7 linked regions of the Homo sapiens genome follow. The protein of the gene in region 2 interacts with the protein of the main gene of each other region in a pairwise test. Each region holds a gene or a part of one and is shown on either strand. Other genes may lie near its edges. The genes, in order: KLF15, SNCA, WWP2, KLHL20, ZSCAN1, UBA52 and MSRB2.

Region 1 (3,491 bases), on a different chromosome or scaffold from region 2:
AGCTTCCCAAAGTGCTGGGATTAAAGGCGTGAGCCACTGTGCCAAGCTGCCCCTGCCACCCCTCCAAGATGGAAAGAACTACAGTAAAGGCTCATGCTGGCACAGTGGGCATTCTCTGTTGGGAACTGCCAGAGCAGCTGGTAAAAGCTCCCAACAGGAAAGGACCCCAATGCTACCAGGGACCAGGGCTTCCCTCCCACAGCCCACCCAGTGTGCAGGGGTCTCTGAGGCCACAGGTGCACTCAGTCGCTCAGGCCCTGATGCTGGCTGCCTCTCACCACCCTGGCCTCATCTACCCCACTGGACCAGAACTCCACAGGGGCATCTGTGAAGGCCTGTACAGGACCGCCCATCCGGAGGGGAAACGGAGGCCTGGGAGGAGGAAGCAGCACAGGGAGAGAGGTCCTCAGACTTGAGTCCACCCACTCCTGAAACCAGCTGTGCTGGAAGCTGGGCCCTCTAAGGCAGGCCCAAATAAAGATTGACCCTGCAAAGTGTATCTGGGAGTTCAGGTGGCTCCCGACATTTCGCTTTCTTGGCCCTGCTGGCCTGGGAGCAGGCACTCATGTGACAGTCAAGAGCCCAAGCTGCATCGAGGGCCTGGACTGCTTGCCACCAACCTCAGGGATTTGAGGCCCTCTCCACCCCTGGCTTGGCAGCAGGTCCCTCCCACCCCACCTACCCCTCCCACGACACACTATCCCGCTCTGTGCTCCACCTGCATTGACCTTTCCTTGGTCCTTCTTGCCACAGGCCATTTGCACATACTGTTCCCTCTTTCTAGAATGTTCTTCCCTCCCCCTCCTTGCTCTCTCCTACCCATTCCTTAGAGCTCAGCTCGAATGTCACTTCCTTAGGAAATCCCTCCAGGACTGCATCCAATTCTAGGCTCCTGTGGCATTACACACCTCTCTCTCCTCATTCTTGCTGTTGTTTTGATTTTAAATTATCTTCAACTTTTTGATGACTGTCAGTCTGTCCCACTAGACTGTCAGCTCCATGACAAAGGACATGTTTGTCTTGGTTCCCGGTGGTCTTCCCATGACCAGCCCAATGCCTGGTATATGGTAGGTGCTGAGGAGGTGGATTTCAATGCAAGAGTGGGCACAGCAAGCAGCCCTAGGGGGGCAGACACTGTCAAGGAGCAGTCCCAAAGCATGCACGCACACACACACGGACAAATACATGCCCACACATACAGGCACACAAACATACACGGACGAATATGTGCCCACACATACTCACACACACACACACACAGGCACAAATTCATGCCCCCATGTACTCACGCACACACACACACACAGGGACACGAGGCCCAACACCCCTTTGTGGACCAGGGCCACCCAGCGAGAGGCGGTGCCCAGAGCAGCAGTTCCCACCCAGCAATTGGTAAGGGCTGGTGATGCCCTGGCGCCCTGACCCTGTGGGTGGAAGAGCAGAAGGACCCAGCAGAACATGCTCTGGACAAGGCACAGGGGGTGGCAGGAGGGCCTGCAGGAGGAGACAGGAACTCCGACTCACATCACAGAGTGGTGGTGGCACCAGGCACAGGGCAGTGCTTTCAGCACATCTCCAGACTAGGTGAAGCCCAACTGCCCTGCCTGTCAGAGGAGGAAACTGAAGCTCAGGGTGCTGAGGGCCTGGTCCAGGTCACTGACAAGACAGGGCCCCTGAGGCTGGAGCAGAGGTCTTGACACAGCCCCCTGCCCTGGCAATGGCAGATGACCTGGACTCCCAGTCAGCAGAGCCCCCCAGCCTCCTGTACAGGCCTGGATGGGTGTGTGTGTCACAGGGCCCTGTGCCAGTGAGGAAATGGGATAAATGTGCCCTGGCAGTCAAAGCTGACACCTGTGCTCCTGGGCAGGACACCTGCCCCCAGCTGCAGCTGGGCACACAGCTTCTGAGCAGAGGAGCTGGCCCAGGGCAGGGGTAAGCAGAAAGCTGCAGACACAGAGTGCCACGCCTCCCAGGCTGCAGCCCTGGGGTCACCCAGCATCTCACTGGCCAGGGAACCAGGATGAGCCAGCCCCATTGGACTGGCAAGACCATGGCAAGGGTTTAAAGAGGCCAAGTCACACAGCCCAGGGGACAGAGTCTCAGGCTCCTGCCTTGACAGTTCCCACCCCACTGGGTGCCCTGAATGGTCCTTTCTGGGCCTCAATTTCTTCATTCATCCAATGAAGACTCTGGCATTCCTGCCCACCTTCCAAGACTCATCTCAAAGGCCACAGGTGGTGACGTGGGGCCACACAGATCTCTGGTCATGGTGACACCCTGGGAAGGACAGGCAGATGAGATAGAACCAAGCTGGACAACATGCTGTCCTCACCTGAATTCCCTCCCTGCTGCCACAGGGTCCTGGCACCTGAGAGGAACTTCCCTGGGAACTGAGCCCTCAGAAGACCCCCTGCCTCACCCCTGCATGCCACATTCTCCCAAACAGCAGCCAACAGAGAGCCCTGGGGACTACAGTGGGGGATGTGGGAACCCGGTGGGTAAGATGCAGCCCTTGTAGGCAGTAAGCTCTGCCACTTACCAACCAGGCAAACTAGGAAAGTCACCAAGCTCCCTGAGCCTCAGTTTCTCTACCCAGACAAAGGGAGAACAAAAGACCTATTCCTGAGGACTGTGAGGATTGTACAAGGCAACCAGTAACGGTTTAGAGCCCTGCTTAGCACGTGGCAATTATTCAAGAATGATGAGCTCTTATCACCTGCATGGAGTTGAGTGTTGGGCCTGGTTCCTGGTGGGTCCTGCTGCAGACAGGGCAGCACTATGATTTGTGCTGAGCTGTAGGGCAGAGGGTACACAGGGGTCCAGTGTCTCTCTAGAGCAGCTATAATGTCAGGGCTGGTGCATACAGCACTTCTGTATGAAGGCGTCCCTTCCTTGAGACACTAACCCTCATCCGCCAGACAACACCGCAAACAGTCCAGTCTCAGAAACTGCAATGGAAATGGTGCTCCCTAGAGTTGTGCAGTTCACAACCTGCCCAACCATACTGGGGGCCTCTGCCTACAGAGGGAAGGAGGTCAGAAAAAGCCTCAATGCAGAGGGGTCATGAGAGCAGGCTGGGAGCCAGACCCCTAAGTTTGAATCCTGCACCTACCACCTCTTGGCTCTGACGCTCAAGAGGAGCCTGGAACTCCCCTTCTCTGTCCCCCACCACATCCACTGTGGACGACAAAAGTACCCACCCTACAGGCTGATGACAGTTATTCATATTCATATTCACTGCAGCAGAAGGGATTCTTTCTGGATGGAATGGCTTGGCCATTCTGGAACAGGACGTTCTGCTGCAAGGAACAAAGGATGCCTATGTCTGACAGTGAGGCAAGGAAACTTCTAGGAAGGCAGGCAAGCAGCACTTCCCAGACGGCTGGATCAGAACAGGGAAAGCCTGCTCTCAGCCCTGTTGAGGGTGCCAAAATCATGTCACCAGAGAAGGGACAGGGAGTACTCTTAGGACCAAAAGCAGAAGGAAGTGG
Region 2 (4,354 bases):
ATTTAATCTATTCGCTGTGTTACAAATCTATTCAGATTTACTGTTTCTTCTTGGGCCAGTTTTATTCATCTAACAGTATTTTCTAATTTCCCTTTTGATACATTTTCTATTAAAGATACTTTCATTTTCAATCAAAATAAAATTAACAATCATATTGTGTTGTTTAAAACATTATACTGGAATATATCAATTGTCGCAAATCATGCATTTATCTTTTTATTCTATAACTTGTGTGGGTAACTTTTATTTTACTATGCGTCATCCCATTGGACATGTATGGCAAAAAATAATAACCTTCCTTTGGCATTCCATTGATTTCCCTAACTTTCCATTTAGAAATTTATTTTAGAATGTAAAGTTTCTAAAAATATATTCTCTAATGCAGGGGTTAGTAAACTTTTCCTGTAAAGGGTCAAGTAGTAAGTATATTAAGCTATGTGGACTACATATGATTTCTTTTACATCCTTTCTTCCTCTTCTTCATCTTCCTCCTCCTCTTTTTTTTTAAGGACCCTTTAAAAATGTAAAAACTATTCTTAACTTGCAAGTTGTCCACGTAATGAGCATGTAGAGAGCAAATGATTCTCACTAAGCACTAATGAAAGAGAAATGTGACAATGACAGGTTTTTGGTACTGTCTTGTTAGAAAGATTCAGCTTGGACTCCTACCTCAGAAGGCATTTCATAAGCCTCATTGTCAGGATCCACAGGCATATCTTCCAGAATTCCTTCCTGTGGGGCTCCTTCTTCATTCTAATATTTAAAGTAAGAAGCACAAAAAGAACATGATGAAGTAGCATTTTTCACTTTTAAAAATCAGAACCATGTTTTGGAAAAATCTTACATATAGGGATGTTGGCCACGGATCTTGAAAATGGCACACCTTAATATTACTACTGGCATTCTAAACTCCACAATGCCTCCGGGGAAACATTGCGGCAACATGGGTTATCAACCCTCAAAGTATGTAAACTTTTTGCTCAAGTAATTTACTATTTAGGAAATAATCCACAGCTATAGTCCAAAGATATTTTTCACAAGATCAATGACAGCAGGAAACAAAATTTTTAGAATTGTTAACTAAATGTTCAATGAATAATGAAGAGTTAAAAAATTATTGCTGGGTGCAGTGGTTCACTCCTGTGATTTCAGCACTTTGGGAGGCTGAGGCAGGTGGATCATTTGAGTCCAGGAGTTCAAGACCAGCCTGGGCTGTTACAATGAAACCCCATCTCTACTAAAAATACAAATAAATAGCTGGGCATGGTGGCACATGCCTACAGTCCCAGCCACTTGGGAGGCTGAGGCAGGAGGATCACTTGAGCCTGGGAGGTAGAGGCTACAGTGAGCCATGTGCATGCCACTGCATTCTAGCCTGGGTGACAGAGGGAGACCTTGTCTTAAAAAAAATTATCATTCAACTACTCAGTAGATTATGATAAAGACCTGTATTACTATTACCTGAGAATTATGTAACAACTACCTATTTATGGTATAATATTTAGCAGGCTATAAAGTGTTGTCTATATTATAGATACAACCTACACAGAATTCAGACGCAAAGGTAAAAAGTTTGGAAGAAAACACAATAAAATATGAAAGTTATTTTGTTGGATAGTATGTATGTTATTTTGACTTTTTTTCTAAGTGTTTAACTTTTATAACCACTTATAATGTAAAAGCATACATATTTAACACATTAATTTTAAATGACAATGAAGAAACAAATTCTTTTCTGAAATTTGAAGACTGAGACTATACATATTGAAGGAAAATAATCAAATACATGGTCAGAAAATTTTTCTAGGTATCTCTTCCTAGACAAAGAATACTACAAAACTCAGCCTGAAATGGTCATGGCTTTGTTGGTATTCTTCACTAAATACCTTTTGTTGCTTTGCATTTATTTCAGCAAAGTAATTATAAGAAGATAAAGGTAAGTGAAAATTCAAAGAACAGAGAGGCAATGTGAGCCTAAAGGGACTTGGAGAAAGAGATCAAATAATCCCTCAGCCAACGCGGCTGATTTTCAACAACATGTCTGATGTAAAAAAGCTTCCCCATGTCTTCACATGGAAGTGACTGACAGGGACGCAGAAGTATAAGAAAATGGCTAACAGTAAGAAAAGGTCACACTAAAGATCATGCTTATGGTAGGTGGGCAGAGAAGCTTACAGATCATTCTGCCCTTGCCAATGCCCTTTTTATAAACTAAAAAAAATCCAAATAATATATAAATTAAATAAAATATGAACCACCCCAAACTACCTCACTTTAAAATGTGGAGTAAACATACTGTTTTCGTAGTGTTTCACTTCTTGGTAGATACGCCTCTGCTGCAGGATGGCTAGGCACAAGGCCTTCCATGTCACAGGACTTGAGCTCAAGTCCTAGCTTCTCTAGATGACAGAGCTTTTGTGATGCTGAGAAGTTTCCTATGCTTTTTCTGAGTGTCAATTAGTCTTAGTGATCAAACGGGACAGCAAAACCTTCTTTACAACAGGGAGAAGGAAACGACATCATTAACTTTCTCATTAATATTTAGATTACTGTTAGGATATCCAAGTATAAGGGAAATAAGGCAAATTTTTTTCCATGATTTTGAAACTGACAGAGATTTGATTTTCTAATATAATTTGTTAGAAAATTTTGATATGGACCAGACAAGTAAATATGGCAGACCTACCCTGTTTGTTGTTTGATGATCAAAAAGGAGTTGTTATGACGGAACTAAGACTGATGGATATTACTGGATTTGTTTATATGTTATTTGGCTGAACTTTGAAGGATGTACACAGATGTGTAGGTTAGGTGAGTGTGTGTGTCTGCATGGTTCCAGCCTGGGTGAGTGGGTGTGTACAAGAGCACCCTGCAGTAATGGAACAGCGTCCTGTCCGGGGTGGGTTCCCATATTGCTCCCTGAGCTGCCAGGATAGGCTCCAACCACCTGCGGCCTCCACCGAAATAATTAGGTAAGTTATTTGACTTGTTTGTATTAATCTTTCTTAAACGTATATATAGCTCACATTAATTTCAATGTTTAATGTCAGAAGTGATTTATCTTTATTTAGGAGTTTGATGGTGTTTTTGTGTCCAGAAATTTGCCATAGGACTTAATTCTTGCTTATATCAATTAGCCAATGGTAAAACTGGTTTTGTTATATGTTGTTTTGCTTCAAGTCACAGTTTCCAGAAACTATTGATGAAGTTAAGTGAGGATTTACTGTATTATGTGCCCTCTGATGGAAGTACATACACATCACCATCTTAAACTAAGACTGTACTAGTTTAAGTGGGCTATTGTTCACTGATCCAATAACTTCATCAAGTGGGAACAAGCTACACTAGGGATGACAGCACAATCCTATTCTAGAGTCCAAATCGACAATAGGGTTTACGACCTCGATGTTGGATCAGGTCATCCTAATGGTGTAACTGCTATTAAAGGTTCGTTTGTTCGACAATTGAAGTCCTACATGATCGGTGAGGTCAGGAGATCTATAGCATCCTGGCCAACATGGTGAAACCCCATCTCTACTAAAATACAAAAAGTTAGCCGGGCGTGGTGGTTCTCCTATAGTCCCAGCTACTCGGGAGACTGAGCCAGGGGAATCACTTGAACCCGGGAGGTGGAGATTGCAGTGAGCCCAGATCACACCATTGCACTCCAGCCTGGTGACGGAGTGAGACTCCGTCTCAAAATAAATAAATAAATATATAAATAGAAAAAGAAAACAAAAAAAGAAAAGCCCTACGTGATCCGAATTTGAATTTGATTAACATTTAACTATCACTGACAACTTACAGCAAATATAAGGTGGTGAAAAACATGTTCATTGCTTACAACAGTGGCTACAATCAGCAAATTTTGCACTGTGAGAAACTACACAAGACAAAGAATACGTCTAATTTCAATAAGTAAATTGCAACTAAAAAGAAGTTAGTGGGAACCTGCCGCTTAAAGTAGAAGTGAGAGAGCATTAGCCAATTGCAACCTAAGAACTTTATTTCATTCTCATTGGGAACCCTACATAAGCAAATGGAAAACACATATGAGGTAGTTGGGGAAATTTGAACACTGACTTGATATTTAAGAATTATTGTTTATTTCTTTAGGTGTGATGATATATTGCAGTTTTACTTCAAAAAGTTCTTAACTTTTACAAATTAATTAAATGTTTACAGATCAAATAAGATATCTATCTAGGTTTGGGTGGGGGAAATGGGTGGGATATAGAAGAAACATGAGTTTAATATTTCATCAGTTTTAAAAAGTATATACAGTAGTCTCCTTTTATCCGTGGTTTTGTTTTCCATGGTTTCAGTTGCCCACCACCAATTGCAACCCCAAAAT
Region 3 (4,354 bases), on a different chromosome or scaffold from region 2:
ATGGCAGTCCTGACCTAGGGCCCGTCCTCTTCCTCAAGTCACCCATGCCTTTTGCTTCTTGTTTTGTCTTCAGATCTGCTTTCCAGTCAGCCTCTTTTATTCTTAGCCTGTAATTCCACGGGGCTTCCAATAGTGTACCTCCCTGCTCCCTCCCGTTTTCTCTTTTTCCGTGCTTAGTCTTTGTAAGGATGTCATTTGGCAAAGTTGATTCTGTTTGATTGTTTTTCAATATGGGCCTTTGGAGAATGGAAGGTAGTAACTCAATGCTGGACAGAGGAAGGAGGCCAAGAAAGAAGCATTAGTGTTGGAGTAGCATGAGCCTGTGAAGAACAGGAGAATCTTTTGGACAGAGCTTTTCCTTGCATATCTTTCAAGAAATGAGTGCAGGCTGGGCGCAGTGGCTCACGCCTGTAATCCCAGCACTTTGGGAGGCCAAGGCGGGTGGATCATGAGGTCAGGAGATCGAGACCATCCTGGCTAACGTGATGAAACCCATCTCTACTAAAAATACAAAAAACTAGTCAGGCGTGGTGACAGGCACCTGTAATCCCCGCTACTCGGAAGGCTGAGGCAAGAGAATTGCTTGAACCCGGGAGGTGGAGGTTTGCAGTGAGCCGAGATTGCACCACTCACTCCAGCCTGGGTGACAGAGCAAGACTCCATCTCAAAAAAAAAAAAAAAAAAAAAATAGAAGTGGGTGCAAGGTTTATCTCTAGTTAGAAATAAGCTCTGCCTGTTTCTACAGCTGGTTAATTAGAAATAAAATCTTTGTGAACCCATGGATTATATTGAAAAAAATTTTTTAAAACAAGAAATAAAATATTGATACTGGTGTGTAATTTCTGCTTTTCCCTGGCTCCTTCTACACAGGTCTTTTCATCTCAAGATCGGTGTTCACTGGTTTCTTGACTCAGAGCTGGGTCAAGAATTTTAGGAATTGAGGTGCTTGTAATGCCAGAGCCAAGAATTTCAGTATCGAGAAGTGGTTTTGTTTGTAGTTGATATTTGAAGAGCTCTTACTGTGTGTCCTCTGCTTTACCTGAATTCATGTAGTCAGTACAGTAATCTTATAAAGTAAGTACTATTATTGGGTTCATTTCACAGATGAGAAAACTGAGATTTAGAGAGGGTAGGTATGATTTTGTGAAATATATATTTAGTCTTCCTCCCATTTCCTGGCCTATAACTCCTAAAATCATTGAAATCTCCCAAGTGATCAGTGTCTTTTTTTTTTTTTTTTTTGAGATAGAATCTCGCTGTGTCGCCCAGGCTAGAGTGCAATGGCATAATCTCGGCTCGCTGCAGCCTCTAAGCGATTCCCGTGCCTCAGCCTCCCAAGTAGCTGGGGCTACAGGCACATGCCGTCATACCCAGCTAATTTTTGTATTTTTAGTAGAGATGGGATTTCGCCGTGTTGGCCAGGCTGGTCTCGAACTCCTGAGCTCAGGTGATCTGTCTGCCTTGGCCTCCCAAAGTGCTGAGATTACAGGTGTGAGCCACCACACCTGGTCAGTGTCTTTTTGTGTGCTAATAATTGACCTTTGGTTGGGGACTCCTGGATAGTCTCAGGATTTGGGGGCCAGTGGCCAGGGAAACCAGCCTTGTAGTTAGAGGGTTGGCACTTTTAGTCCCACACCCAGCCTCTGGGACAGGGAGAGGGACTGAAAGTTGACTTGATCTGCAGTGGCAGTGACTTAATTGATCATGCCTGCGTAATGAAGCTTCCATAAAAACCCTGAAGGACTGGGTTTGGGGAGCTTCTGGATGGCTGCACACGTGGAGGTTCTTGGAGGATGGCACCCTCAGAGAGGGCTTGGAGGCTCTGTGCCCCTTCTCACATGCCTCGCCCTACGTCTCTTCATTTGTATCCTTCATAATATCCTTTATAATAAATCAGTAAATGCAAATAAAGTGTTTCCTTGAGTCCTGTGAGTTGCTCTAGCAAATTTATCAATCCTAAGAACCTCGATTTATAGCCGGTTGGTCAGAAGCACGGGTAAAACAACCTGGAGCTTGCAATTGATGTCGCAAGTCAGGGGCAGTCTTGGGGAACTAAACCTGTGGGATCTGATGCTATTTCCAGGTGGATAGTGTAGGAACTGAATTAGAGGACACCCAGCTGGTGTCTGCCAGCTGCAGAATTGATTGCTTACTTGGTATGTGGGGCTCCCACACATCTGGTGTCAGAAGTATTCTGTGGGGCTGGGCGTGGTGGCTCACACCTGTAATCCCAGCACTTTGGGAGGCAGAGGTAGGAGGATCGCTTGAGCCCAGGAGTTTGAGATCAACCCGGGCAGCATAGTGAAATCCTGTCTCTATTAAAAAAAAAAAAAAAAGGTAGTATTCTGTGTTGTGAGAGTATAGCAGGAAGAAACTGAGTTTGCTTTTTCCTCTCCATCCTCTCAGTAAGTAACTTGCTCTGGATCACTCAAAGGCAAATGAGTGGTTCAGCTTATTAGCCTCCAGAAGATTGACAGGTCTGAAAGGTTGTTGCTGAGGTAGGGTGATAAAAGTGATCAGGTGCTTCAGGTATTGCAGGAGCTGCCACTAGCTTAATCTGATGTGTAGTTGTTTTCTCCTGTCAAAAGTTCTGTAATAATTATTATTTTTCTTTTTGAGATGAAATCTTGCTGTGTCTCCCAGGCTGGAGTGCAGTGTGCTATCTTGGCTCACTGCAACCTCCGCCTCCCGGGTTCAAGCTATTCTCTTGCCTCAGCTCCTGAGTAGCTGGGATTACAGGTGCCTGCCACCATGCCCGGCTAATTTTTGTATTTTTAGTAGAGACGGGGTTTCCCCATGTTGGCCAGGCTGGTCTCGAAATCCTGACCTCAAGTGATCCACCCGCCTGGGCCTCCTAAAGTGCTGGGATTATAGGCATGAGGCACAGAGCCTGAAGGACTGTAGCTTTGTAGTAAGTTTTAAAATTGGAAAGTGTTAGTCATCCAACTTTGTTCTTTTTCAAGATTGTTTTGGCGATTCTGGGTTCCTTGCATTTCCTTACTTTAGGATCAGCTTGTCAATTGCTGAAAAACAATTCTCTTTTTCTCTCTGTTTGTTTTTATATCTGGCTTTTTGGCCAAGGACTTCTGCAATGTTTGTTGACATTTAGGTGTGAAGTACACATGTATGCTAGGACCCAAGTGCGGGAAGGTGAGTTGGGTGGGGGAAATTGACCTTTTCAGTTTATAATGTAGACTTTCACTGTCTCGCTGGGTCAATATGGTGCCTTATCCCTATTGTCAACTATGCCTGAAGTCTTGAGTTTGGTTTCACCTGTTGAGAAACTAAAAGTCTTTTTAGTCTTTTTTTTTTTTTTTTTTTTTTTTTTGAGACAGAGTCTTGCTCTTGTTGCCCAGGCTGGAGTGTAATGGTGTGATCTTAGCTCACCATGACCTGTCTCCCAGGTTCAAGCTATTCTCCTGCCTCGGCCTATCCCAAGTAGCTGGGATTACAGGCACGCACCACTACACCTGGCTAATTTTGTATTTTTAGTAAAGACAGGGTTTCATCATGTTGGTCAGGCTGGTCTCGAACTCCCGAACTTGGGTGATCCGCCTGCCTCGGCCTCCCAAAGTGCTGGACTAAAAGTCTGCTTGGGATTAGGAAGGGGCAACTGCTTGGTTGAACTGGGTGGGGAGGGGACTCTGGGACTCTAATCATTCCCAAGATAGGCTTTTGCCAGTCCTCCTGTTTTTAGCCCCACTTCTGCCCTTACTTTCGGAGGTACCTGTACTACTGATGCAGGGCACGTGAGCCCCAAAACTGGGGGTTAGTCTGGGTAGGTTCTTGGCTTTGCCCTGGAAAGAATTCAAGGGCAAGCTGGTAGTAGAAGAAAACAGCTTTATTGAGGCAGCAGAGTTACAGCTCCGTGACTGCTCCTGCAGAGCAGGGCTACGCTATAGGCAGTGTGTCCCTAGTAGCAGCTCAGGGGCAGTTTTGCTGTCATATTTATACCCAGTTTTAATTATATGCAAGTTAAGGAGTGGGCTATTAGACATTTCTAGAAAAGTGGTAACTTCTGGGGCATTACCATGGCATTGGCACACTGTCATGGCACTGGTGGGTGTGTCTTGTGGGGAGGTGCTTTTGGTGCCTCTTCCCTGTTTCAGCCAGTCTTCAGTCTGGTCCTGAGTCGAGTCCTCCCTCCTGCCTCACCACCAGTGATTGACCCTTTCTGGAATTCTTCATTGCCAGTCTGCTTGCCTTCTGTTGACCTCTCTTGTGGGCAGCTAAGTTTCAGTTTCGACACACTGGAACCATTTTCCAAAATTTTGCTGCTGTTTCCGTTGTGTTTTTTTCCCTTTCTGTGGGTTTTCACCTTTTTGTATTGCTTCCTGTCATTTTGATGGAGTTT
Region 4 (4,354 bases), on a different chromosome or scaffold from region 2:
TTGTATGGACATGGATGAAGCTGGAAACCATCATTCTCAGTAAACTATCACAAGGACAAAAAACCAAACACCACATGTTCTCACTTATAGGTGGGAATTGAACAATGAGAATACATGAATACAGGAAGGGGAACATCACACACCAGGGCCTGTTGTGTTGGGGGAGGGGGGAGGGATAGCATTAGGAGATATACCTAATGTTAAATGATGAGTTAATGGGTGCAGCACACCAACATGGCACATGTATACATATGTAACAAACCTGCACGTTGTGCACATGTACCCTAAAACTTAAAGTATAATTAAAAAAACATTTAAAAAATTAAAAATATAATAAAAATAAAAACCAATAACGGCTGGGCACAGTGGCTCATACCTGTAATCCCAGCACTTTGGGAGGCTGAGGCAGGCGGATCACGAGGTCAGGAGATCAAGACCATCCTGGCTAACTCGGTGAAACCCCGTCTCTACTAAAAATACGAAAAATTAGCCAGACATGGTGGCACATGCCTGTAGTCCCAGCTACTTGGGAGGCTGAGGCAGGAGAATCACTTGAACCCAGGAGGCGGAAGTTGCAGTGAGCCGAGATTGCGCCACTGCAGCCCAGCCTCCGTGACAGAGCCAGACTCTGTCTCAAAAAAAAAAAAAACCAGTGTGATGGCATGTGCCTTTAATCCCAGCTACTCAGGAGGACTGCTTGAGCCTAGGAGTTCAAGACCAGCGTGGGCAACTTAGTGAGACCCTCATCTCAAAAATTAAAAAAAATCAATAAGTAAAAAAACCCAGCAACAACAAATGGTAGAATAATCTGAAAAAGAGAGAGATTCTTTTCCTTCTCCCTTCTTGTACCTATTGTTCCTTTTGTCTTGGGATTTCAAAACTCAGGCCAGTGGCATTTAAGCTTTTTTGATATAACCTGCAGTTTACGAGGGGAAGCAGTGATGCGTATCTATACAAATTTGTGTGTGTACATACACACAATTGAACATGCTTAACTAAATGAAATGTATGCTGTTACTTTCTATTTCATTTTTTAATGCTTCTTATGAGGCACTGAATTTTACAACTAAACCTAGTCCCCATTTACAGCACTCTTACCATAGAAAAATGCAAACCTCCAAATAAACTTTTAGATTCAACTTTTAAATACTACTTATTTATAAATTGAAGAATGTCTGTTTATGAACTTATTCACTTATTTTATAATCATACCGAAACCTCAGTGATTCAGACCAATTTGACAGGAGCAATTCAACATATGTAGTACTTTTAAATGAAGCTTATCATATTTAATATCTCTAGATATGAAATTAGACCCAAATTAATCTAACAAAATCTTGACCTGGAGGCTCTTTGGAGTCCTGCTAAATCATCATTTAGCTTGCCATTTTCTTTACTATTTTAATTTTAATAAACTTTGAAGAAAAGATTTCTATATAAAGATAAACTTCAATCCAGACTTTTTTTTTTTTTTTTTTTTGAGACAGAGTCTCTGTCACCCAGACTGGAGTGCAGTGATGCAATCTCGGCTTACTGCAGCCTCTGCCTCCAGGGTTCAAGTGATTCTCATGCTTCAGCCACCCAAGCAGCTGGGATTACAGGCATGTGCCACCACACACGGCTAATTTTTCTGTAATTTTAGTAGAGACAGGGTTTTGCCACATTCACCAGGCTGGTTTCGAACTCCTGGCCTCAAGTGATAAGCTTACCTCAGTCTCCCAGGGATTACAGACATGAGCCACCACACCAGGCCGTCAGTCCAAACTTTTTATATTGTCTTTAATTTGAAATTTAACTATTAATTGAAGCGTGTTAACTTGGGCTTAATTTTTAAAATGGATAAGCATAACCACCTGATCTAAAAGTTTTATTGCTATAGTAGCTCAATTTAAATGGTTTATGTAGACCAGGCATGTTGGCTTATGCCTACAATCCCAGCACTTTGGGAGGTGGAGGCAACAGGATCACTTGAGCCCAAGAGTTTGAGACCAATCTGGGCAACACAGTGAGACATCATCTCTACAAAAAATTTAAAAAAAAAATCACCAAGCTAATTACATTTCCTTATCGCTTGAATTACAAACATTTAAGGGGAGAAAAGAGCTTATAATAATACTGCCATCTTCTCTCTCTCCCCCATCATTCCTATAGGTGTACCAACATTCGACCAGGAGAGACTGGAATGGATGTAACAAGCCGCTGCACCCTTGGAGACCCCAACAAACTGCCAGAAGGGGTTCCCCAACCTGCCCGCATGCCCTATATCTCAGACAAGCACCCTCGACAAACCTTGGAAGTGATTAACCTTCTGAGAAAGCACCGGGAGCTATGTGATGTGGTGCTAGTTGTGGGCGCCAAGAAGATATATGCCCATCGAGTCATTTTGTCAGCCTGTAGTCCCTACTTCCGAGCTATGTTTACAGGAGAATTGGCAGAGAGCCGTCAGACAGAAGTAGTGATCCGAGACATTGACGAGAGGGCTATGGAATTACTGATTGACTTTGCGTATACCTCCCAGATAACAGTAGAAGAGGGCAATGTTCAGACTCTTCTGCCAGCTGCTTGCCTCCTCCAGCTGGCAGAAATACAGGAAGCCTGCTGTGAATTCTTAAAGAGACAATTAGATCCTTCTAACTGCCTGGGCATTCGGGCTTTTGCTGACACACATTCATGTCGTGAGTTGCTAAGGATAGCAGACAAGTTCACCCAACATAACTTTCAAGAGGTGAGTTGCACTTGGTGTTCCAATGCACCCATTTGTTGGAGAGCAATATGGGTTCACATTCTGCTAAATAACACTTGCCTGGGTATTTCCTGCTGATTCTAACTCATAATAGCAAATAAATAAGTTATTATAAATCCTAAACCTGGCTTTTATTTTAGAGGGCAATTTTGTGTTCTACCAGCAAGTTAAGATTTAGGGATTTATTCTCCCTAACTGTATTCATAAAAGTATTTAAAAAAAAATTTTTAAAAAGGTTTATTTATAAGCCAAAATAGAGTAATTCACAAGAGGATCTATGCCTGATAGGATACCTGGTATCATGATTTATATAAGATATTTCCTTCCTGATTATGTGGATTATTCAGAATAAATTATAGATTATAGGTTGTTTGGTAAACTAATAATCTGAAAAGATGAGTTTAGATGTTATCAAAATAATTTTCATTAAACCTATCTTTCCCTTATTTATTTAACAAATATTTGTAAAGCTACTATGTTTCAGCCACTGTGCTTGGGAGCATAGGGTACAATAGTGAACAAGAAATCTAGAGTCTCTGTATTCATGGAGTTTATAATCTAGCAGGGAAGATAATCATTAAATGCTTAATTATACAAATAATTAACTACAGTTAATGGGTGTTACAAAGAAGCAGTCCTGGATGATTTAAGAGTGTATTACAGAGAAATTTAACTTTGGTGCTGGAACAACTTGTGCAAAATCCCAAGACATTAAAAAGCATCACTAGTTTGAAGACCTGAAAAAAACCCAGTGAGACCCAGAGACCAAGGGGGGTAGAGGATGTTACATAGTGATTACACAGAAAGAAGAGGGCTAAATCACACTGAGGTTGATAGACTATGTTAAGAATTTGAGATTGGCCTGGTGCAGTGGCACATGCCTGTGATCCCAGCACTTTGGGAGGCTGAGGCGGGCAGATTGCATGAGCTCAGGAGTTCAACACTAGCCTGGGCAACATGGCGAAACCCTGTCTCTACAAAAAATACAAAAATTAGTCGGGCATGGTGGCGTGCACCCTTAGTCCCAGCTACTTAGGAGGCTGAGGTGGGAGGATGGCTTGAGCCCAGGAGGTAGAGGTTGCAGTGAGCCAAGATCGTGCCACTGCACTCCAGCCTGGGTGAGAGAGCCAGACCAGACCCTATCTCAAAAAAAAAAAAAAAGAATTTGAGATTGATCCTAAGAGTGCTAGAAAACCATTAAAGGGTTTTAAGCAAAGACAAAACATGGTCTGTTTTACAACTTTTTAAAAAATCATATTTTTATTTATTTTGCAGTAAAGTGGTCAGCTCAGGACCATAGTTTTTTTCCCCCTAATAGTTTTTGGAGAACAGGTGGTGTTTGATTATATGAATAAGTTCTTCATTGATGATTTCTGAGATTTTGGTGCATCCACCACCCGAGCAGTGTACACCGTACCCAATGTGTAGTCTTTTATCTCTCACCCACCTCCCACACTTCCCCCTGAATCCCCAAAGTCCATTGTGTCATTCTTACGACTTTGCATCCTCATAGCTTAGCTCCCACTTATAAGTGAGAACATATCATTTTTGGTTTTCCATTCCTGAGTTACATCACTTAGAATAATGGTCTCCAACCAACTCCATCCAGAT
Region 5 (4,961 bases), on a different chromosome or scaffold from region 2:
CAGTGCAGTGGTGCAATCTCAGCTCACTGCAACCTCCGCCTCCTGGGTTCAAACGATTCTCCTGCCTCAGCCTCCCGAGTAGCTGGGACTACAGGTGCACGCCACCACACTCAGCTAATTTTTGTATTTTTAGTAGAGATGGGGTTTCACCATGTTGGCCTAGATGGTCTCGATATCCTGACCTCTTCATCCTCCCGCTTCTGCCTCCCAAAGTGCTGGGATTACAGGCGTGAGCCACCACGCCTGGCCCCTTATTCTTGTTTTCTTTTTCTTGGTTGCTTGGTTTGCATCAGGACTCTCCCAGGGTGTGACATGCATCTCCCTCCCGCCTCCAATCTCCCCACCTGTCATCCCTGAAACAATAAACCTGGGTCCACCTCTGGAAGGATAAGAACCCAGATCTGTGGCCAGTGGCTCACCGGGGCTATGGGGATGTGTTTGCATTTGAAGGTACAGATAGGGCCCCGGGAATGTCTTGGTTTCTGTGCCTGACCCAAGTGTGTCGATAGCTCCTCTGATGCCCCCTGAGAGTCAGGGGAACTAAGCATGCCCCTCTCTCCACACATACATGCCACCCACTCTTCTCTCCACGCAGCCCCTCTGCTGCCCTTGATTAGTCACAGACGCCAAGGTGGGTGAAGTAGGGAAGAGCCTGACTGTCCACAATGGCCCCCAGTAGCCAGGTACCAGGAAGAGGCGTAAAAGGGAGTCCCGCCTTTACTCCTATAGATGGTGGCTCCTCTGGTTACGATTTCAGAATTCAACATGTTTTACAATCAAAACTAGCATTTGATAAGAAATAAAAATCAATAACCCAGCCAAACACACCATCCACATACTCCCAACGTGAGAGCAGGAAGAATCTTGTGCCTTAACTCCCTTCCTGCCATCAGCTCCCTCCCTCCCTCCCTCCCTCCTCCGTCTCTAGCCCAGCAATCCCTCTACTCCAGTTTTGCCCAGCTATTGGGAATCTTGGACAGCTTCCTTAGGCCCCTGTGCATCCAGGTAGGGTTGGGGCAGCAGAAAGCGAAGACCCACTCAAGACAGACCTTGTCAGTGCGTGCTTGACTCCTGGTCTTTTCTGATGCTTTGTTTGACTCAACATACCTCCTCCAACAACCTGATTTGCATTGATAAGTGTCACTGTGTTTTCCTTTGACACGACTCCGTTGCAGTTTGCCGAGCCCTTGATGGTACCAGGCTCTGGGCACGTAGCACCCACATCCTCACTGGAAACCCAGAGAGCTAAAGCTCCTCATCCAGGGCCACACAACAAGCAGGGCTGGAGCCTGGACACCAAGCCAAGCCCCTCTGTTTCGAATTCTTGCTCTTCAACCACAGCTCAGTCTCCTCCCAGGAAGTGGTGATCCCCGCTTTGGGCGGGACACGGTTAGGTGCATCAGAGGTCATAGGTCGCAGGTGGGATGTGAAGTCTGTGAAGTCGCCCACTTCCTCTGGGCTTGTGGGCAAGGACAGTGCAGCCTTGGGGGACGGGAGTTAGGAGCCCCAGCTTGTAACAGTGACCCGAGCTGTGGCACAGGTCCCCTGGCTCCATCTAATGCTCTGTTGTCACTGTCCTGAAATGATCAACGATCTTTGAACAAGGGGATTTGCATTTCCATTTTGTACAGGGGCCCCTCGAATTCTGTCTCAGGTCCTGTTAAGAGCTCTTTAGGAGTGGTTATTTATTTTTTGTATAAGCAGAGTCTTGCTGTGTTGCCCAGGCTGGTCCCAAACTCCTGGCCTCAAGCAATCCTCCAGCATCAGCATCCCAAAGCACGGGAACAACAGGCGCGACACCGCGCACTGCCCTGGGACAGAGCCTTTGGGGATGACGCCCGTTCCTTGGTTGTTCGGTGGTGGTGGGGAGGATGGCTCCTGAGGGGCAGCTGCCGAACAGTCCTGTGCTTGCCATTCTAGGCGTCTGAGCTGATTCTGGATGCAGTGGCAGCAGCCCCAGCACTCCCCGAGGAAAGTGAGTGGCTGGAGACTACCCAGCTCCAGCAGAGTCTGCACACCAGGGCGGAGGCCGAAGCGCCCCGCGCCCCTGGCTTGCTGGGTGAGTCTGGCTCCTGTGTGGATTAAGGGTTGGAAATGGAGTTTGGGACTTCAACCCAAAGCCACAGACTTTGTTAATGGGTTGAGTTGGGTGCTTCGGTGGTGAACTCCACACTTCCCCCAGAAAGCATGCACACCTCCTGTGAGGACTGAGATCTGGGGCCCCTAGAACCACCATGTACATCGTTCACCCTACGAGAAGGGCCTCAGCCTCCGCACCTGAACGGCAGCCAAGGCAGACAGTCTGAGAGTGTTGGAGCACGGGGTTACCCAGAGGGCCAGCCAGGTAGGAACAAGGGCCAGTGCTGTGGGATCTGCTCCCAAAACATGTGCCTTTTTTTTTTTTTTTCGAGACAGAGTCTTGCTCTGTTGCCCAGGCTGGAGTGCAGTGGTGTGATCTTGGCTCATTGCAACCTCCGCCTCCTGGGTTCAAGCGATTCTCCTGCCTCACCCTCCTGAGTAGCTGGGATTACAGGCGCACACCACCACGCCCAGCTAATTTTTGTATTTTAGTAGAGACGGGGTTTCACCATGTTGGTCAGGCTGGTGTCTAACTCCTCACCTCATGATCCACCTTCCTCGGCCTCCCAAAGTGCTGGGATTACAGGCATGAGCCACTGCACCGGCCACATGTGCCCTTGTATCTTAAAGGACAGAACGGAGGACACAGGGGCCGTATTGAGCAGAGGAAGGGCCTGGACTTGGCTCAGTCACTGGGGTCCTCCGTGCCCCTGGGGAGCACAGGGAGATGCCAAGGCCATCCACTCACTACAGGTGACCCATCTCCCTCGCCCTCCACAGGGTCCCGGGCCCGCTTGCCTCTGAAGCCGAGTATCTGGGACGAGCCTGAGGACCTTCTCGCAGGGCCCTCCTCAGACCTGCGGGCAGAAGGGACTGTGATCTCGAGCCCCAAGGGTCCAAGTGCTCAGAGAATCAGTCCCCGAAGGAGAAACAGGAACACTGACCAGAGCGGCCGCCACCAGCCATCCCTCAAGCACACCAAAGGTGGTACCCAAGAGGCTGTTGCAGGCATCTCGGTAGTGCCGCGTGGGCCCCGAGGTGGGCGGCCCTTCCAGTGTGCCGACTGTGGGATGGTCTTCACCTGGGTCACCCACTTCATCGAGCACCAGAAGACCCATCGCGAGGAAGGGCCCTTTCCGTGCCCCGAGTGTGGCAAGGTCTTCCTGCACAACTCCGTCCTCACTGAGCATGGCAAGATCCACCTGCTGGAGCCACCGAGGAAGAAAGCCCCCCGGAGCAAGGGCCCCCGGGAGTCCGTCCCACCCAGGGATGGAGCCCAGGGCCCAGTGGCCCCTCGCAGCCCCAAAAGACCCTTCCAGTGTAGCGTCTGCGGGAAGGCCTTCCCCTGGATGGTCCACCTCATTGACCACCAGAAGCTCCACACGGCCCACGGCCACATGTGAATGGCCAGCCTCGGGCCTCGGCCACCCGGCCCTGAGTCCCTGGGGGGAGCTGATGGGCCCCAGAAGATGGGGGACATCCCCCAGCCCCACCAACCCCTGGCCACCTTGGGACTCCTCTTGAAGGACACAAGCTGTTTCTCGGAAGACCCTGGACACCTGCTCCGAAGCCAAGCACGGGATGGGGCTTCCCAGGGTCTCAGCTGAGAAGCAGCAGTTCCACAGCACAGCCTGGTCAGTCCTGCGCACTATAGTTTTGCAAGTGGCTTGAAGAGGAGTTTCATTCGCGTCCCATCTTTCAGAAGCCTTGTCCAGGTCTCCCTGTTAGCACCTGACTCAGCGGCAGCTTCTGCCGCTGGGTTTTCATTTCACTGTGGATATCCCTGAGGCCATGAGGGTGGGAGCCGGCCTGGGCAGCTCCAACTCCAGAGAAGGGTACAGCTGACCCCGGCTGCCCTCCTGCCAGCTTAGCCCCCTTGGAACCTAACAGATAAACAGGGTTTTGTTTTTTTCCTTTTTTGGGTAAAGTACATGCAACATAAAATTTACCATTTCAGTCATTAAAAATGAACAGTTCAGTGGCATTAAGCACATTCACAACACTGTGCAACTACCAGCACTCTCTAGCTCCAAAGATGTTTTCGTCTTGCCCAGAAAGAGAGCCCACAGTCCTCAGCACGCCTTCGCCATTCCTGCCCGCCCTGACAACCAGAATCTGCTTCCTGTCTCTGAGGATTTCAGGCGCAGTCTTTAGGCCTGACCAAAACTGACCTGCCTGTATTTTGTTTGACTTACAGAAGGATTTTTTTTTTAGATAGATGCCAACATTTGTTTAAACCATAAAAATCTGGCTTTCTGGTCTGCCAGGAAGGATCAGATGGTCTCCAAAGAGTGGGCCCGCCTCTCCTGCTAGGCTGGAGCAGAGTGTGGGCAGGCGGTGACGTCACAGCGGGGAGCCAGCCTCGGACTCGGCTTCTCACCCGTCCCCAACTCATTGTTGTCGGACACTCGTCCCCTTTCAAGCAAAAGCCTTAAAAGTTTTTGCCTTTTTCTTTTTCTCCTCCCGACTTCACTTGGAAACACAGTGTTGGGCTGACTGTGAATCCGCACAGGCAGAGACATTTTTCCAAGTCGCCTTCTAAATCAAAAGCCTTTGGACTTACCCACGTCACATCCGCCTGCTGCTGCTTCTCAACCAAGCTGCCCCCACTCTCGGCCTCTGTCCCCGATGGCCCTCTCGGGCTGTGCAGGTCCCACGGACCCACCGCTGCCTTCACTTCATCCTCGCTGCCGCGCTTGCCTTCTCACGCTTGCCTTCTCGGAGCGCCCCCTAACCGCGCCTCCGGACCTTGCTTCCCGGCTCCCTCAGGCATCCCCAGCTTTTCCCTGCAGTCCCCACTGGGGGCTCCTGGCTCTATCCTATGCCTTAATTGCTGGTGGGCTCCAGCTCCCCTCCTGGCACCTTCTCTCTCATCCTGCAAA
Region 6 (4,842 bases), on a different chromosome or scaffold from region 2:
GGCGACTGAGCCCAGCCCTGGCTCCTCAGTCACAGGGGCAGGACCCTCCAGGGCCTATAGTCTGCTGCTTTCTCAAGTGTGATGGGGACACCAAGTCGGGATCCCCCGAGTGTTCTACGTGTGGAAGATACACTGTCCCAGCCAGCCTGCCCCAGGAAATCTCCATCTCAGCACTGACCACGAGCCCTGGGGGGAGTCTGAGACTGACACATGCCAACTGAGGCATCCATCTGGGTTTCTAACATGGAAGCCGACCTCTAAGTGGTTCAGGCAAGGTCAGACACTGAAGTCTAGGCGGGGCACCATGGCTCACGCCTGTAATCCTAGCACTTTAAGAGACCAGCCTGGCCAACGTAGTGAAACCCTGTCTCTACTAAAAATACAAAAAAAATTAGCTGGGCGTGGTGGCGGGTGCCTGTAATCCCAGCTACTCGGGAGGCTGAGGCAGGGGAATCGCTTGAACCCGGGAGACGGAGGTCACAGTGAGATCGCGTCACTGCACTCCAGCCTGGGTGACAGAGTAAGACTCTGTCTCACAAAAAAAGGACACTGAATTCTTGTCGCTCCCACAAGTGACACTAATTTCCTTATTGCAGTGATAAAAAAATTCACATTATGACTTTTTTTTTTTGTCTCCCGAGTTCAAGCAATTCTCCTTCCTCAGCCTCCTGAGTAGCTGGGACTACAGGCACGCACCACCATGCCTAGCTAATTTTTGTATTTTTAGTAGAGATGGGATTTCACCATGTTGGTCATGATGATCTCAATCTCTTGACCTTGTGATCTGCCCGCCTCAGCCTCCCGAAGTGCTGGGATTACAGGCCTGAGCCACTGCACCCAGCTGATTTTTGTATTTTTAATAGAAACGGGATTTCACCACGTTGTCCAGGCTGGTCTTGAACTCCTGACCTCAGGTGATCCACCCGCCTAAGCCTCCCAAAGTGCCGGGATTACAGGCATGAGCCACTGTGCCCAGTCCCATTATTTTAAACAAAACACAAGTCATTTGAACTGCTCCCCAACCCCTGAGGCCATCAATGCTCCTTTCCTAGGACCTGGGGATCTTGGGTCCCTGCCCAGCAACCCCAACCCCGGTACCTTTCTGGATGTTGTAGTCTGAGAGAGTGCGGCCATCCTCCAGCTGTTTGCCGGCAAATATCAGACGCTGCTGGTCAGGTGGGATACCTGAGGGGGAGGGAGGCTCAGTTAGAGGCTCTGCGGACCATATTACTGGCAGTGTCCTCTGCAGGGGAGCTCCAGCACTACCCCCAGTTTCTCAAAAGGCCAACTGAGGTAGAAGATAACAAACGTTCTTCAGATCACATGGAGAAGCAAGGGCAAAACAGATCTAAAGTCAGCACAACCCACACAGGACTGAGACTCCCCTGGGCAGAGAGGGACTCCCAGTTCACAGCCAGAGCCCCCACACCCAGCCCTACTCACCCTCCTTGTCTTGAATTTTGGCTTTGACATTCTCAATGGTGTCACTGGGCTCGACCTCAAGGGTGATGGTTTTGCCAGTGAGGGTCTTCACAAAGATCTGCATGTTTGCGTCTGCAGGAGGAAGGGAGGCAGGATAGACTGGTGAGCAATGCATGCCTGAGTAGCACAAGCTCAGGTGCCTACACCACAGTTGCTATCCCTTTGCCTGCACCAAGTCCAACTGGTCCTGCCCCAGTACCTGTCTTCCTTTCACTCCTCCAAGCCTGGCCCTGCTAGGCTTCTCACACACCCTGGCCTGTAGTCTAAACATGTCCTGGAACTAAAGACCACATGTCCTCCACCCTCCTGACCGCACGGGTGCTCTTCAGGAACACAGACTGTGGTTATTCTCCTTAGGTTTAGCGGCGGAAGGACTCGTCAGTATCTCCTGATGGAATAAGTACCCTTTGGCATCATCTTGCTAGATCCATCTTCCCTGAAGGCGGTCCCACCCTCTTCCACGGCAGCCAGGTCCTGATCTGCACAGGCTGCTCCTGCTGCCAGCCTGGATGGGAAGCCATCCCCTACAACACACATGCCTTCCTGTCGCAGCCTCTCTCCTCTCTAACTCCAAGCTGGAGCACCCAACACTCTTAGCTTCCTTCTCAATTACACCAAAACTCTCCAGACCCCACTTCTTGCCTTGACCCCAAACCACGAACATCACTTAGTATCTACCAACCACCTGCCAAGCATTGTTCACATATAAAAGTTGACTTAAAAAGACAAAGAATCGACCGGGCGCAGGGGCTCATGCCTGTAATCCCAGCACTTTGGAAGGCCGAGGCAGACGGATCATTTGAGGTCAAGAGTTCAAGATGAGCCTGGCTAACATGGTGAAACTCCGTCTCTACTAAAACTACAAAAATCAACTGGGCGTGGTGGCAGGCGCCTATAATCCCAGCTACTCGGGAGGCTGAGGCAGAAGAATCGCTCGAGCCCGGGAGGTGGAGATTGCAGTGAGCCGAGACCGCACCACTGAACTCCAGCTTAGGCGACAGAGCAAGACTCCATCTGAAAAAAATACAAATAGTCTAAAGAAAAGTCTAAAAAGCAGACACTACCACCAGCTCCTCCTTACAGACGTAGTAATGGAGCCAGGTATGAAGACTCAGCTCGAGAAATTTAGTATTTCCAAAGCGACTGACGCAGTGACTGGCAGAGTTAACGCTACACGCTCAATACCCCTCTCTCATTAACTCGGATCTGCCCCGAGGACCTCTTCCCGCCCGAGGCCTCGTGGGGTCACGCTGGCAGGCAGAGCAGGCAGGCTCCTCTCCAAAACGGCGCTCGCCTCCTGGGCCCCGGTCTGGGCTCCGAGCCGTGGCCTCGCGAGCCCTGCCCAGCCACCCTGCCGAGACTGGCCCGCATGAGCCAGCTCAGGGCCGCCTCTTCTGCCGCCCAGGCCCCTGCAGCCTCCCGCAGCCCCCAACCCGCTCTCGGCCCGGCGCGAACCCGCACGACCGCCGCCACCAACCAGCTCGGCCGCCTCGCTGAAGAAAAAGAAGATAGCGGAACCGGAAACCACCTAATCGCCGCCGAAAGCGCTTGCGCACGGAGCACGCCGGACGCCTGCGTCACAATTCGCGCCGCGCCTTGGGCCCCGCCCTGCCGCCATCTTGGATGCTGGCGAACGAAGCCGCAGCGCACGTGGGTGAAGGTCGCCCACCCGCTTCCGGTTGTGGGCCCCGCCCGCCGAGTCACTTGAGACGATTGCACCTCTCCCCGTGTTTGCGTCCGCTGCCTCTAGGCCACTGACAACCGCTGGCGGTTGGCGGGCCCTCAGCGAATAGCTGAACGGAGTAGAGGAGAATGTTTTCTAATAAAGCAAAGGTATTAAGCAGAGGACTGCGGGTCCAGGACGCAGGAGTCGGGGCTGGGAAAGCACCTAACACCTGGAATCGGTTATTATAAAGCTCTCGGCCGCTGTGCCTGAATGGATTTCAGGACAGCAGCAGGGAGAGCAGACGGTACTACCGCATTCGCCCAGAAAGGTGGTGGTGCCTGACAAAAGGTGTCAAGCGGGACTCAGGATTTTTTTTTTTTTTTTTTTTGAGACGGAGTTTCGCTCTCGTTGCCCAGGCTGTAGTGCAATGGCGCGATCTCGGCTCACCGCAACCTCCGCCTCCTGGGTTCAAGCAATTCTCCTGCCTCAGCCTCCCGAGTAGCTGCGATTACAAGTGTGCGACACCATGCCTGGCCACTTTTGTATTTTTAGTAGAGACGGGGTTTCTCCATGTTGGTCAGGCTGGTCTCAAACTCGCGACCTCAGGTGATCCGCCCGCCTTGGCCTCCCAAAGTGCTGGGATTACAGACGTGAGCCACTGCAGTGTCTCTTTTCAGTGTAGGATCCAGATTTGTGGGTGGTTAAAAAGTGCCAGGGCGGGACCTGGGTCCGGTGACTCACGCCTGCACTTTGGGAGGCCGAGATGTGCGGATCACCTGAGGTCGGGAGTTCGAGACGAGCCTGACCAACATGGAGAAACCGCATCTCTACTAAAAATACAAAATTAGCTGGGCGTGGTGGCGCATGCCTGTAATCCCAGCTACTCAGGAGGCTGAGGCAGGAGAATCGCTTGAACCCGGGAGGCAGAGGTTGCAATTAGCCGAGAGAGTGCCATTGCACTACAGCCTGGGCAACAAGAGCAAAACTCCGTCTCAAAAAAGAAAAAAAAAATTACAAAAATTTTTCAGGTGTGGTGGCGGGTGCCTGTAATCCCAGCTACTCAGGAGGCTGAGGCAGGAGAATCGCTTGAATCCGGGAGGTGGAGGTTGCAGTGAGCTGAGTTCACGCCACTGCACCCAGCCTGGGTGACAGAGTGAGACTCCATCTCAAAAAAAAAAAAAAAAAAAAAAAGTGCCACGGCGGGTGCAGTGGTTCACACTTGTAATCCCAGCACTTTGGAAGGTCAAAGAGGGAGGATTACTTGAGGTCAGGAATTCACGACCAGCCTGGAAGACATAGTGAGACCCTGTCTCTACAAAAAAAAGTTTTATTTTGAACTATCCAGGTGTGGTGGTGCGCACCTGCAGTCCCAGCTACTTCGGAGGCAGGAGGATTGCCTGAACCCATAGGTTTGAGATTGCAGTGACCCATGATTCAGCCACTGCACTCCAGCCTGGGCAACAGAGAGGTGCTGTCTCAAAAACAAAACAAAAAAAAAAAGTGCTGAGTACAGAGAAGATGGGGAGCAATGAGAAGTTACCTATAGGCTTAACAGGGGTACCTGTTTATTTCCTTGAACATTTGCAGGCACTACTATACCAGGCAAAAGCAGACACTCTCACGTCTGGGAAGATGCCTTTAAGAACCTAATTTCCTTTTCTTTTTTGAGACAACAGTTTTGGTCTTTTTGCCCA
Region 7 (4,354 bases), on a different chromosome or scaffold from region 2:
GACCAGCCTGGCCAACATGGCGAAACCTCATCTCTACTAAAAATACAAAAATTCACTGGGTGTGGTGGCAGGCACCTGTAATCCCAACTACTCGGGAGGCTGAGGCACTTGAACTCAGGAGGTGGAGGCTGCAGTGAGCTGAGATCATGCCACTGCACTCCAGCCTGCAAAACAGAGCGAGACTGTCTCAAAACAAAACAAAACAAAACAAAACAAAGCAAAACAAAAAAGAAACCCCATGTGTTCTGAAGACAAAAGAAAGTACCCCTATAAAAGGACACCAGATTTGCCAAGAACAAGAGAGCTCTTTGTGGCATTGGGGGCAGCATCAGGGAAAGTAAAACAAAATGAGAAACCTCACCTGCTTGCAGACAACCTCTGTGCGAGCTGATCCTAACGAGGTATCCAGACGTCTCAGGATCCCTGTGTGGCTTTCATCAGAGCCAGACGTACCATGAGCCTCGGAAAACGAAGGCCACCCAGTGCCAGAGCAGTACTTTTTCTCAGAACTGTGGAAGACATAAACGATACTACAGCTGCTAATGACACTGTCATTAACATGCCAAGAGGTGCCCCGATGTGTTGTTCCAGGCAGCAGGATCTGTTCCCACTCTCCTCTGCCAGATCCCATGCCCAGTTATTCGACAGTCAGTCCCCCCGGAATCGTCCTCACTGCACCTTCACTATCGAAGCCATTGCCTCTCGAAGTGGAAGGACTTCTTGATCCTTTGATGCTAAAGACTTCTTTCTGGATATCCAACAAGGATCTAAAAACACATGGTGTTTTGTGAACTGTGTTGCATATTAGGTAACACAGATCAAACCCATGTGTTGAAAATGTCAAAAGGGGAGAAATCAAAACGAAATACTAATGCTCGGAGGAAGTCATCATCATCTTAGAGCAGCGCAGAAGTGTAAGGTCTGATGAGAAAGTCATGCTTGGCAACAGGAATTTCAGGTTATCTCAACACAGACGCCTGACCAGGGATTCAAAAGCTGCCTCTGGCCACTTCTTAGCTGTGTGAAACCACAGCTCTTGAAGCCTCAGTTTGCTCACCTAGCAAATGGGAATAATATCTACCCTACAGGGCTGTTTTGAGGATTTGAGGGGAAACTGAAGTGTGACATAAAGCTTAGCACGGTGCTGGGCACATGGTAAGTTCCCTGAATGCTTGCTGTGATGGTGATGATTAGTATTAATTAATACGCCTGGGTACCTGGCATCAATCACTGCAGTGAAACCTAACCCTCCAGAAGTCTCCCAGGGACTCATGATGCTGGCACAAGGAGAAGGACAGCAGGCAAATCCACTCACCAAAGACCCACCCTCTAAGTGCTCTCATGGATAAGCTCCCTTAAATGGCACTGGGAAAATAGACTTCAAAAATTGCTGTGGCAAGGAAATGGCTCTCTCTATCTAAGGAAGAAAGAGAAGAACTGAATGTTAGACCCAGCCAAAAAAAAAAAAAAAAAAACAAAAAACTAATCTAAGAAGAAAAAGTAGCAAAGAATCAAATCCCTAGACTATGAACACAGAAGGAAGCCTAGCTGGCAGCACAAACTCCCACAGAAACAATTGTGTAATGCAGCAATTCTCAAACATTTTGGTCTCGGCACCCCTCATGTCCCCTCTGTGTCCCCAAAATTAATAGGGATTGCTGAGAGCTTTTGTCTGTGAGTTACGTATGTCAACATTTAACAAATTATACATTATAAATGAGAATTTAAAAATATGTGTGCATTAATTTTTTTTTAATATAGGTTGAGTGCCCCTTATCTGAAATGCTTAGGACCAGAAGTGTTTCGGATTTCAGATCTTTTTGAATTTTGCATTTTACTTGATGGCTAAGCATCCTTAATCTGCAATACTCCAGTGAGCATTTCCTTTGACTAGCATGTTGGTTCTCAAAAAGTTTCGAATTTTGCTGGCGTGGTGGCCCACGCCTATAATCCCAGCTTTTTAGGAGGTGGAAGCGGGTGGATCACTTGAGCTCAGGAGTTCGAGACCAGCCTGGCCAACATGGTGAAACCCCCTCTCTACTAAAAATAGAAAAACTAGCTGGGCATGGTGGTGCATGCCTGTAGTCCTAGCTACTTGGGAGGCTGAGGCAGGAGAATAACTTGACCCCAGGAAGCAGTGGTTGCAGTGAGTGGAGATCAGTCAACAGAGCGAGACTCTGTCTCAAAAAATAAAAAAGTTTCAGATTTGGGTGCATTTCAGATTTCGAATTTTCAGAGTAGAGATGCTCAACCTGAAATAAATTTATTATATGTTAACATAACATATATTTAAGGCAAATAATTATACTTTTCAAAATGAAACAAACATTTCATGAGAAGAGTTGCACTGTTTTACAATTTTGCAAGGCTCTTTAACATCCGGCTTAAAAAAAAGACAACTGAATCTTCATATGTGCCTCTGAATTCAGTCTGTTGCTATGTTGTTTTGATTGGAGTATAAGAGGATGTGGCCTCAAGTGGTCTCAAGTGTGGTTGGAAAAGCCCCTAGAAAGGTCCCCCCCAGGAATCTCTGGGGTCCTCAGACCAGGCTTTAAGAACCACAGGTATAGCCATTAGAGGAAGGGCTTTGACTTCTGAAAGATTTGTGTGTGAATCTGGGATCTGTCTGTTACATCTGTATCACCTTGGCAAGTCATTTAATTTTTTGAAGCCTCAGCATCCTAGTCTATAGATAAGTATAAACTAAAAATAAAGTTCTAAGCCACCCACTGACTGAATAGAGCCCTTCTTGGCCAAGAGGACTCCAGAAAAACCTTTAAATCGAGTTTCCGGTCATGATGGGACAGGAGGTCAGACACACCTCATTATACCCTCTCCCTTTTGTGGTTTAGACACAACAAATGACCAGCATTAATGTTTAAATAGAGATCATAAGACTGGCAGAACAGCCTCTTTGTGGCAATAATATACCAAATTATAAACAGGACCTAAGGCCATGCCAGGCGAGGGTGAAGTCATGCACCCCTACACTTAAAGAATCAACTCTAACTGCCACAGGGGTTTTCTTCTTCTCTAGCAGCTAAACAATCACTGGCCTTGAGATAAGCAGTGTTGAAGCAATTGCAGCTCATCTACCATCAGACACTGACTAGCTGAGACCCTCTGTTCCACCAGCCGTAACTACAGCTTTGATTGCACAAGAGACTGATTTTAGTAACTTTCTCCTGATTAAAAGACCATGAAGTGGTTCTGGATGGTTTACAGAGGCTGTGCACTTGTGGGCCTTCATATCCTGAAAGACCTTTTGATGTATAGGATCTAATTATAATACATTTAAATGTTAAGTTTCTACCCCCAAATAAACATAGGTCATATGTTACATGCATGTTTGTTCAATATGTGTATGTCAGGACCATCTTCACAAATTTTCATAGCCCCTTCTGTGATCTGTTAAATAGGTATATTTAGCCAACCCTCTCAGCATAAAGCTCCTACCCCAGCTGCTCCCCCTTCCAAGTGCCTGCATCTGCTCTTGGCTGGGAGCTCGCTTCCCAGCCTGTAGGATGGCCACCTTGAAGGCTGTAACCCTTTAGAAGAAATAAAGTCTCCTTTTCTAAATTTATAGATTGTATGATTGTTTTAAGCTAACAATAGCAATGGCATTATCACCTCACTTTCTGTGTGTGTGCTTAGCATAGTACCTGACACATGGCACTTGAGTTGGTAGCTATTTTTTAATATTTTTTTATTATTAATACCAGAAATCTATGGAATGTGAGCAGTTGTGGGTCCAACTAGAAATGTCTGCATATTCAGGTCGGATTCTTTGCAACCCTCCTCCAGGGGTTCAAAAACATTCATCTGGCCACTCTGCTCAGGGAAAAACATCATTAAGTATCTTTTAATCCCAGTCTTTCCATCCTCAACATTATATATCAACTAGTGATCATTAAAGGTATTTTGATTGAGAATTATGAATACAATAAAATTTTTTAAATAAATGAAACTAAGGCTAATAAAAACTCATTAAAGCATTTTATGGGAAACAATAAACCTTTATTGATGCAATTAGCAGAATCGGGAGATTTTTACCAAGTAATATGAGAGGCCTAACATATATAAGTTAAGACTGGGAACCAAAATATTAAAGCCAATCAGAAATTCCAATATACATATTTAAGTGATTAGCAGATTGTAAGGTTTGCCCTTGAAGAACTAAAACCATTCTGAATCATATACTCTAAGGGATTTTTACTTTGTTTCGTTTTATTTGCTTTGGTTTTCCTTGATTTCTGGAAGTTCTACAGGTCCCAAACCAACAGCACAGGCACTTGGTGATAACTGACAACCCTAACCTCTTAGAAGAATTTCTATTCCTTTGAGGGAATGGGGC

Evidence for each region.
Region 1: the proteins of SNCA (region 2) and KLF15 interact in binary tests that used the Homo sapiens proteins (3 or more experiments, as listed by UniProt).
Region 3: the proteins of SNCA (region 2) and WWP2 interact in binary tests that used the Homo sapiens proteins (3 or more experiments, as listed by UniProt).
Region 4: the proteins of SNCA (region 2) and KLHL20 interact in binary tests that used the Homo sapiens proteins (3 or more experiments, as listed by UniProt).
Region 5: the proteins of SNCA (region 2) and ZSCAN1 interact in binary tests that used the Homo sapiens proteins (3 or more experiments, as listed by UniProt).
Region 6: the proteins of SNCA (region 2) and UBA52 interact in binary tests that used the Homo sapiens proteins (3 or more experiments, as listed by UniProt).
Region 7: the proteins of SNCA (region 2) and MSRB2 interact in binary tests that used the Homo sapiens proteins (3 or more experiments, as listed by UniProt).

The regions. Positions count from the first base shown.
Region 1 is NC_000003.12:126,344,312-126,347,802, forward strand, and holds part of KLF15 (Krueppel-like factor 15), read right to left. Parts: intron 1-3,491. UniProt on the Homo sapiens protein: Transcriptional regulator that binds to the GA element of the CLCNKA promoter. Binds to the KCNIP2 promoter and regulates KCNIP2 circadian expression in the heart. Is a repressor of CCN2 expression, involved in the control of cardiac fibrosis.
Region 2 is NC_000004.12:89,728,525-89,732,878, forward strand, and holds part of SNCA (alpha-synuclein), read right to left. Parts: intron 754-4,354; coding exon 670-753; intron 1-669. UniProt on the Homo sapiens protein: Neuronal protein that plays several roles in synaptic activity such as regulation of synaptic vesicle trafficking and subsequent neurotransmitter release.
Region 3 is NC_000016.10:69,768,651-69,773,004, forward strand, and holds part of WWP2 (NEDD4-like E3 ubiquitin-protein ligase WWP2), read left to right. Parts: intron 1-4,354. UniProt on the Homo sapiens protein: E3 ubiquitin-protein ligase which accepts ubiquitin from an E2 ubiquitin-conjugating enzyme in the form of a thioester and then directly transfers the ubiquitin to targeted substrates.
Region 4 is NC_000001.11:173,731,562-173,735,915, forward strand, and holds part of KLHL20 (kelch-like protein 20), read left to right. Parts: intron 1-2,151; coding exon 2,152-2,725; intron 2,726-4,354. UniProt on the Homo sapiens protein: Substrate-specific adapter of a BCR (BTB-CUL3-RBX1) E3 ubiquitin-protein ligase complex involved in interferon response and anterograde Golgi to endosome transport.
Region 5 is NC_000019.10:58,050,570-58,055,530, forward strand, and holds the end of ZSCAN1 (zinc finger and SCAN domain-containing protein 1), read left to right. Parts: intron 1-1,920; coding exon 1,921-2,059; intron 2,060-2,859; coding exon 2,860-3,482; 3' UTR 3,483-4,062; downstream 4,063-4,961. UniProt on the Homo sapiens protein: May be involved in transcriptional regulation.
Region 6 is NC_000019.10:18,570,005-18,574,846, reverse strand, and holds the start of UBA52 (ubiquitin-ribosomal protein eL40 fusion protein isoform 1 precursor), read right to left. Parts: upstream 2,991-4,842; 5' UTR 2,938-2,990; exon of another isoform or gene 2,240-2,937; intron 2,008-2,239; exon of another isoform or gene 1,900-2,007; coding exon of another isoform or gene 1,887-1,899; intron 1,555-1,886; coding exon of another isoform or gene 1,547-1,554; coding exon 1,444-1,546; intron 1,186-1,443; coding exon 1,099-1,185; intron 1-1,098.
Region 7 is NC_000010.11:23,115,459-23,119,812, reverse strand, and holds part of MSRB2 (methionine-R-sulfoxide reductase B2, mitochondrial precursor), read right to left. Parts: intron 768-4,354; coding exon of another isoform or gene 638-767; exon of another isoform or gene 510-637; coding exon 362-509; intron 1-361. UniProt on the Homo sapiens protein: Methionine-sulfoxide reductase that specifically reduces methionine (R)-sulfoxide back to methionine.